Linked DNA regions of Homo sapiens: region 1 is linked to region 2. Evidence: fine-mapped expression QTL. A gene starts in region 2. The other region holds a variant in brackets. All regions are shown on one strand. Distances are between the middles of the regions. Region 1 holds the start of CLDN20 (claudin 20). Region 2 holds the start of TFB1M (transcription factor B1, mitochondrial).

Region 1 (4,377 bases), 52 kb after region 2:
GAAATTCTTTCCTTAAATTGGCTTTTGGACATGGATCACAGGTAGAGTGAACCAATTCCAGAAAATGTGATCTACATTCACATTTGTCAGTATTTTCTTTTTCTATGACATGCATAATTATCATATCACAGGCATCAGTGACTTGCTGCCTCTACCTGGGATTCTCCTTACCTGGGAAAGTTGTAACCTCGAGGCCCGTGATGTCCTAAAGTGGACTGTCATTAGCTTGGTGGAGGTACTTGAAGAGCAAGCAGACACTGGAGGGTGGGGAAACCAAGCATCCGGAGGCACTCATCTTGCTCCGTTGTTTTACCCGACAGTGAAGTGGCTCTCCCAAGCCCCTGTCCTCCTGCGTTCCATTTTGTGGTGCCTATAGCCTGCAAGATGCCATATGCTTCCTGTTCCCAACCACCCAGGTCTGCCCGTGATCATCCCACTTCGAACTTTGAATCCTTCTTATATGTTGTTCTTTAAAGTCTTACTGATTATTCCCTGTGGTCTTTTTTTTTTTTTTCACTAGCCCTTCTGTTGTCTTAAGTTATGGCTGTGTCTTGGCTATTTACATAGTAACTTCCTCATCATTTTTTCATCTCCACTATCTTGTCCTCTAATGGTCTTGAACACCGTGAGAGTGTTGAATGAAGACCCTTTTGTAGACAGTGGCCAGCATTGTTTCTGTGTCTGTGCATGTGGTCGTGACTTAGCTTTTGGGCATATGATAATCATCAGGAACTGAGTTGTACGTCTCTTCAGTGTCCTCTGTATATCATGTTGATTACAGTTCTCAGTTGTAATATCTAATATCTAAGATTTAAGATTTAATATCTCCTTAGCCCGGGTCCCTTGTGAGTTCCAAGTGCTGCTCTGAGCTGATAACCAGTCACGTCCTAGACACCCTGGCCTGGAAACTAGGACATCTGCCTCGGGCCTGTTATGGCCAAGGCTGCTAACACTGAGAAACAGTCTTAGCTTGTTACAGCGTTGACGTATAGGGTTAGAAAGGCAAATATTTAAATTCATTTTAAATCCTTTCATTTGAAATTTTAGTAGGTCATTTTGGTATACTGATGGACTGAGTTTGGAAAAGGCTGGCGGCATTAAACTAGAATATTTTAAGTACTTCTGATGCCTTTGTACTGATTTCTTTTTTGTAATCAAACCCATTAATAGACTTAAAACTCAAGGAAGAAAAAATAATACTTGTAATTTTAAATAAGCATTCAATTATAAGTAAAAAACATTTTTGTATTCGTTACCATAGTTACCAAGCAGCTTTCCTATAGTTCTAGAAAAAAATGGGCTCCATCATTCAGAGTAATTCTGAAAGGTGCCTTTGGGGGAAAGGGAGAGGAAGGGGTGGTACAGGAGAGGTCCTGGCCGTCCCAGAAGCAGGAGACATAACTGGAAGAGCTTTGTTGACGCTGAGTTTTACAGAATCTCCCACTAAATAGTAACTGCATTTGTGAGGGGAATTCTCTTTTAGCCGTGACATAATATAAGCCAACTTAACAGAGTATTGGAATTGTATTCAAACTTTAGAAGTCGACGCTATAGTTTACATGGGGTACTACTATATTTGTTCAGGGTTTTAAAACTTTATTTAAATCAAGCAAAAGTTAGACACTTCCTGTATTTGCAAATACCAACTATATCTCAAAGGAATGAAATCAGGCAAATAAAGATGAGGCCAAAATTTAAAATCTAAGGAAGCTGAAAGTGGCAGTTTCTGTACTGGAAGAGAGTGCATCTATCTCTGTATTTGTGCTTTTGGTCTTAATAGTTTGTAAGCCTTATGTAGAGTTTTGATAATATTTCATGGTTTTAGGCCTAGGCAGGGATTAGATTTTATCTCAGATTTTGCTAAGAGTATTTCTTCTGGAGACTAGCAGGCTGCTAGTAAGAATTGATAGAATTGGCTCTTTGTCACTGGGAGAACTGGAGTTGAAGGGTTACAGGAGATGAGTCCTGGAGAACGGGAGGCAGGGACAAGGGTGCCAGGAAGCTCAGGGGATGAAAGGGAAATGGAGAGTCCAGTGAGAGAAGGCTGGCGAGGTGTAGAGAGTGGCCAGACACATGCCTGACAGTTGGGACCACTTCTCTATACAAATCAGGAGGAGGCGAGGTAGGCAGGATAGTTCAGAGTTTGTGGGAAGGAACCTGACATCTGAAGTCAGTGGAGTGTGTCTTGGGCTGCTGCCTGCACTCTGCCATTCATAGATCAGGTCTTCTTTTTCCTTCCCCAGAACTGCCCTGAGCTGAAACCACCTTTCTTCTCTCCCTATAGCAGTACATCTACCCCACCTACACCCTGCATCCACTCCACAGCCCCTTGTCTTCTTCAGTCCCTCTTTCCCTGATGACCACAGACCTCTCCAAGCTGGGCACTGTTCTATGGTGCGTTTTGTTAAAGTCTAAGGGAAGTCCTGTAGGAAGAGGTAGTTGTTACTAAACTTGAGGAAACATGAAACAACATATAGCACACAATTCAAAAAACTTACTAAAATTTATTAAGAGCATTTGACATCTTAGTTAAGTCACTGTTCATAACTACTGTTCCACCATAGAATCTTCACAAGAACAGCCTGCTGGACTTCACAAGAAGGCTGATGGATGTTGGGGGTGGGCATTTGGGGTGTGGAAAGGCCGCTTGGCACATTCTCAGCATGCGCCAGCCCACACCGCCCCTTACCACCAAAGCCTTCTATTTCCCATTCCATCCAGTAGGAGCAGCTGTAGCTGACCTGAAACCTTCGGGGACAGGCTCATTGATTGTTTAAATAGGGAGGTGCAAGCTCTCAGGGGTCCGGGGCCTTGATGACACAGCTCAGGCACCACAGGCACCTCCCAC[A/C]AGCGCGTCAGGCTGTGTGAGGCTGAGCACAGCTTATTTTCACTTTCTTGTCCATAAAGTCTCACATCATATTCAGTTGTTTTCCTTCTACCCTAAAAGAAACACAACCAGAAAAGCCAGTCTCCCATTTTCATCTGTTTAAGGAATTATGTAGCCACAAGGATCTTTAGAAGCAAGTCCTCTTAGGAGAAAATGACAACCTCTATGGGATTTCAACAATGGAGTTCCTTTTGAAAAGCAGTGGTGCAGCCCACACCTCCTAAATTGCCGTACTTTCTTCGCCTTTTGTTGAGTCTGTATGAGATCCTCATTAACAAGTTTAACAATTCCTGGAGACTGAGGCTTTTGTCAATTATGACGAGACTTCCCATTTCCTAGACCATGGTCTCCGTTAGCATTTTTGTGTGTGTAGTTACTGTTTTGAATCCATTTCCCTCTGTCTTTAAATGTTTTTCCTTTGGTATTTGAATTTGTCCTTGTGAATCACCATGAGTCCATTTTTGGAACAAATCAGGGTATAAATCTCTTATAAGATATGCCTGAAAAGTTTTATCTTCTGACAATTAAAGAATCTCCACAGCTGGCAGTAGCTTAAACACTATCAAACAGTGACATTTTTTGATGGTTTCCATTTTCAATTTCAGTCCTGCCTATGCCTTTCGGGGCATTTAAAATTGCTACTAGAAAGTTCTGTGGCTTTTCAGACTACACTCATGAATTCAGTCCAGCTGATTAATCAGTGTCTACCGAAAATAAGTGGTGTCTCTATCTGGGAAGTTTAGCACTGAGTGGTCCCTGGGGGCCTGTCTGCCATCTCTCTGTGTCTTGAAGCTGCTGCTGCGGCTTATTTTTTTCCTCATTCAAAAACTAAAATATTCTAATGCCATCTATTATCTGCTGACTGACTTTAATGATTTGGATTGATTTTTAAGCCATTGTGAAACTGTGTTTTAAAATTAAGTGACCATCAAGCACAGGTCTGGTGGATGTCATTAGAGAACAGGTGCAGCCGGCTGATTTCTCCATGTCATTTGCGAATCCAGAATGTACCATCTTCCATGCCTAGAGATGAAACCGAAGTACGTGGAAAGGTCTGTTTATGAAAACAGGCTGTTGACAGCCCATCCTCCTGTTTTACAAGGATGAGTTGATTGATCACACTATGCCACATATCATGCCACAGAATGATAATATGTTTGCTTACAACGAAGGTGGACGTGGGCGTGGTGCACTTCACTCCCTTGATACAGCCCAAGATAGAGCAGCCATTCAAGCTGGTGGAAAAAGTGGTTCAGAATGTATTTCAGTTCCGAAGGAAATACTGCCATCGAGGGCTCAGGTAAGAATGCCTTTTCTTCTCTTCAGTTGCAGTCTTTATAAAATCCTCAGGCACTTTTTAAGAGTGAGAACCTTGTTTGCTCTATTCTTAAAGCTCTGAGTATTACACTTAGTTCAGGCCTGTGACGGACAAGACTTCACTGCCAATGAGGAGAGAGCAAAGACTTGCTAGACCTCAGGTGGCCTCTCTC
Region 2 (4,399 bases):
TATGTTGATGTTAATCTTTTAAAAAGCTCATGTGATTATATTTGGGGTCATCTGAACATCCTCTTTATACCTGTTACACAACGTGTGTGTTCATGGTAGCATTAGTGCCAAATAATTCAAATTCACTTGTTTCCAAGCTACTGAAAACAGATGCAGGCAGACTTAATATGTAGCTTCCATATTCTTCCAAAAGAAAGACAAGCGACAATGGAAAAAAAATTGAACAAAGATTTGGTAATAGTTTGACTCCAGAAAACTAATGAGAACATTCAGTCATTACATGGCACACTGGATCACTGGTAGGCTGAAACTTAAAAAAAAAAAAAAAAGAAAACCTGCCAGTTAGCACTAAGTGTCGTGATTTAACAGTGTTCATCCTTGTCAATTAATAAGACCATTTGTATTGGTTTTGTATATATTTATTGCAATTGTTTTAAATAGTCATATGAAAACTGTAAGCTTATGTTTACACCTAGATTCGTATTTCTATATATTTAGATGTTACAAAATTAACACATATTAACTTAAAAATAATAAGCTGATACTTGAGTGTGGCCAGTGAGATCAGAACTCAGAAAAAACACAACTCAGGTTGTCTTCTCTCTGTACTTTGCTGTCTGACTCTGGGCATTGTCAAATGACCTCACCTCCCCTATTTCTTCACAGCAAACTAAGAATAATAATCTCATTCACATGGGACCATTGTGAGGAGTACGGGAAATAATGAATATAACTGTGAAATAATGCTTTGTCAGGTATACTGTGTTTTGGACGATAAGATATCTGAATCAAGAGTTTGTACTTCCAGTCTACATTTTGATGCCACGTTGGGCAAATCTCCTTACCTCTATGGTAGTCATCACTATTTTTTAAAGCTAGGAGATTATCTCAGTTCCTTTTAAAACAGCTTTTATAGAAGGTGGTTGAGTTTTCCACTGGAATTTCAAAGTACTCCTCATTTTTATATCCATACCCATAGTTGTTTCGTTTTCCATTAGCTTTTTTAAAAACTTACTAATTGAGGAACAGAAACTTTAAAATTCATTTGTGATCAACGCAGCAATGTCCAAACATAAGCAGGGTTAAAACAGCAAAATTCTCCCACCTATCAGAGAAACTTTAATTTTTTTTTTTTTTTGCTTCGTTGTTTTTATCTCGTATAACGGAAAGACAGAACTCATATTTCAGTCTTCTCTCTGTTCTTAGCTGTAATCCTAGCAAATCGAATGACCTCTTTACACTGGCCAATTATTCATCTGCCAAATAATAACAGCCACCACTGATCACGTGGGAGCTTACCCAATGCCATGCGTGCACTATGTTCTGAACGTGCACACCAGGCGATCTCTCTCATTTAGTGCTCACAATTTTGAGGTAGACATTAGCTCCATTTAACTGATGAAAAAACTGAGGCTGAACGAAGTTAAAAACCCATCATGCAGCATCTGCAGAGCGGCGGTTCTAAAAACGCCTCACAGTAAGAAAGAATTGCTAACAAACAGTAGCTTTGCCTCTAAGCACCCGCTTTTCCTCTAATATTCACAGACAGGTATTTAGAACGTTAAAGAGCCGGAAGCCCTTGGGAACTTCAGGGCGGGAGTAAACCGGCTGCACCTCTCAGAGCAACTCCTCCGAAAAACCCCACCCTGTCCAGGCCCCGCCTCGTCCCGCCCTCCTGGGCGCTCTCCCCATAGCCCGCCCAGGAGAAGCCTAGTCCACCCGGCTCTCCCCCGGCTCTCACAGGCGGAAGCCGCCGACCACCCAGCCTGCCCTTCTCGCGGCAGGACTTAGCGCATGCGCTCTCAGCACGCCGGGAATTTCCTGTCCGCGGTCATCGCTTCCGGTGGGATAGGTCTGACCAATGGGGCTGACTCCGAGGCGGGCCTTAGGTCTCGCAGGTTCCTCCCCTGCGCGTTTCTTTCGGAGCGGCGGTGAAGGTCCTGGGTGAGGTAGGGTTGGATGGTGCTTGCCGCGTATCATGGCTGCCTCCGGAAAACTCAGCACTTGCCGTCTCCCTCCGTTGCCCACGATTCGAGAAATCATTAAGTTGTTAAGACTGCAAGCAGCGAAGCAGCTATCACAGAATTTCCTCCTGGACTTGAGGCTGACAGGTGGATGGCTTAGCAGTGCTCCCCGGATGTCTCCCCAGTGTCCGTGGGGGCGTGGGCCGGGGGGTCTTGCACGTCCCCGCGGGCGGGTGTCCAGGCACTGGCGTGCGACGGGCTTTTGGTCAGGTCCTTCGACCTCTTTGTATCAGAACTCCGGTCCCACCGCCCAGGAGACACGTGAAGTGCGTTGATTGCTCACAAAACTCCGCGTTCGGGGGGGTGTAGCCTGCCGGCAGGCTGCATAAATGCCAAGCTCCCTAGGGGAGGAAGGGTTCATGGGTCGTGAAAGGCGCTAGTGAATATTGGAATCTGGGTCACTGTGAAATCAATCATTCTGAAATAGTACAGCACATGCTGACTGCAGTTGCTTTACATGCAGTTTAAAGTTACCAGAATTTAAATTGATGCGAGGATTTTATCAATAACTTGGTGAAAAGAGTATCCCTCGTATGATTCGTTTTTTAAACGTTTACCTGTTCAGTCTAAGCCTCGGGGGCGCTAATATTCATTCATAAGTACATATTACACAAGCAACATTGTGCTAGTGCCGGGGGTAGGATATGGGCGTGAACAAGGCGGTGTTTCCTCGAGGAGCTTACTTTTAGCAAGTTTACATTCCCACACCTAATTGTTTAAAGTTACTTTTTATGAGATATAATTTATGTGCAATAAAATTAATAAGTTTGAAGTGCTCAATTTGATGAGTTTTGACGAATGTATTTATATATTGGTTTAACCACCATCACCATTGCTTAGTGATGTTCTATGAGATGAGGTTGCAAAAATATATTACAAATACGTCTACTAAGTCACGGCTGGAGTACTTAGGTTTTGAGATTTTCATATTTCATTCTATTTAGTCCCACTTCAGAAGTTGAAAAGAGCAGTAAATCACACCCAAAAAGTTCATTTTCACTTAAATGAAGCACACTCCAGAAAACATAAAATGTTTTATTTCTTGGACATGTAGTCTTTATTCTGCCTGTACCAATATGACTTTGGATAAAATAATTTAACTCAAGTTTTCTCTTTTTTTTTTTTTTCTTTTTTTAAGATGGAGTTTCACTCTTGTTGCCCAAGCTGGAGTGCAATGGCATGATCTCAGCTCACTGCAACCTCCGCCTCCCCGGTTCAAGTGATTCTCGTGCCTCAGCCTCCCAGGTAGCTAGGATTACAGGCGTGAGCCACCGTGCCTAGCTAATTTTGTGTTTTTAGTAAAGACAGGGTTTCACTATGTTGCTCAGGCTGGTCTCAAACTCCTGATCTCAAGTGATCCACTCGCCTCGGCCTTCCAAAGTGTTGGGATTACAGGTGTGAGCCACCATGTCCAGTAGTTTCCTCATCTTTTAATTGGAAGAAGGGCCTACTACTTTAAAAGATTGCCCACTCTAAAATTCTTTGGTTCTAGTAATAGCTAGTACCAGCCTTTTCTGCTTGTTATTAGCCACATTCTAAATATAAATCACCATTCTCAGGGCAGAAGTTATAGGTCTGTGTATTTTTTAAAATCCTTCAAATACATTTTCTCATGAGCCTTTATCTTCAGGAGTAAGTTTCAAATTCTAGATATTATCCACTCTTTCTATGGGAACCAGAGTTAACGGAGATGAGGGTACTTAGCTGAGGTTAGAAGCTCAGGCAGAAGAGAGCAAGATTGAAATCCAAGCTCATTGATTTGATAGCGCTTCTTTAATATTCATTTGTATTTCAATGTGCCTGAAAAGTTTGAGAGCAGAGACCTGCCTACTGTTGTAGCTCTCCATTTTAAAGAAGGAGAGTATTAAATTTATTCCATAATGTATCATTCCTGTTCCCTCTGAGAGGCATTGGCTTTAGGATTTATACCTATGTTGAAGTCCATGACCTTGTACAAATAAAACAATAGACAAGGAAACTGAAAAGTTAAGAGAAATGAAATTGGGATAGGAGTCCTTGGTTAACATGTAAGGATTAGGTGAGAATGTGTGTAAATCCATCATAATAGATAAGATGGTCAGTGGATGCTAATTCCCTCCCTGTTAAAAGACTAAACCATTTTTGGATGGCTGAGAAACTAGTTTCCGCATTTTAGCTGACAAAGTTATGTTGTTGAAAACAAGCAAAAATAGGACTGTGAACACCTACAAGAAGTGCTGGTATGTTTTTAGTGACTAAATTTCCACTATCCTAGGAAGACCAGTTCCTTGGATTTCCATATCTCAGAATCACTAAGACCAGCCCATTGCATGTTTTTCCAGATGTGATGACTGGTTGCACAGAGTCAGTACTCTACCTTTTTATGATGTCTTAAG

Evidence for each region. PIP is the estimated chance that this variant, and not a neighbour inherited with it, causes the effect.
Region 1: its variant is the best candidate, but not a certain one, in a credible set for the expression of TFB1M in whole blood (TOPMed, PIP 0.57).

Annotation. Positions count from the first base shown.
Region 1 is chr6:155,260,083-155,264,459 of GRCh38, reverse strand. TFB1M (transcription factor B1, mitochondrial) reads left to right here. Exons shown (of 7, transcript NM_016020.4): 6 at 4,060-4,187. It overlaps CLDN20 (claudin 20), which reads right to left and starts at 447. Exons shown (of 2, transcript NM_001001346.3): 1 at 172-447. The variant A/C (reference allele first, on the strand shown) is at 2,849.
Region 2 is chr6:155,312,008-155,316,406 of GRCh38, reverse strand. TFB1M (transcription factor B1, mitochondrial) reads left to right here and starts at 1,923. Exons shown (of 7, transcript NM_016020.4): 1 at 1,923-2,111. The coding sequence starts at 1,979. RefSeq lists enhancers at 1,109-1,158, 1,709-1,758, 840-1,830, 1,829-2,148 and a silencer at 1,579-1,658.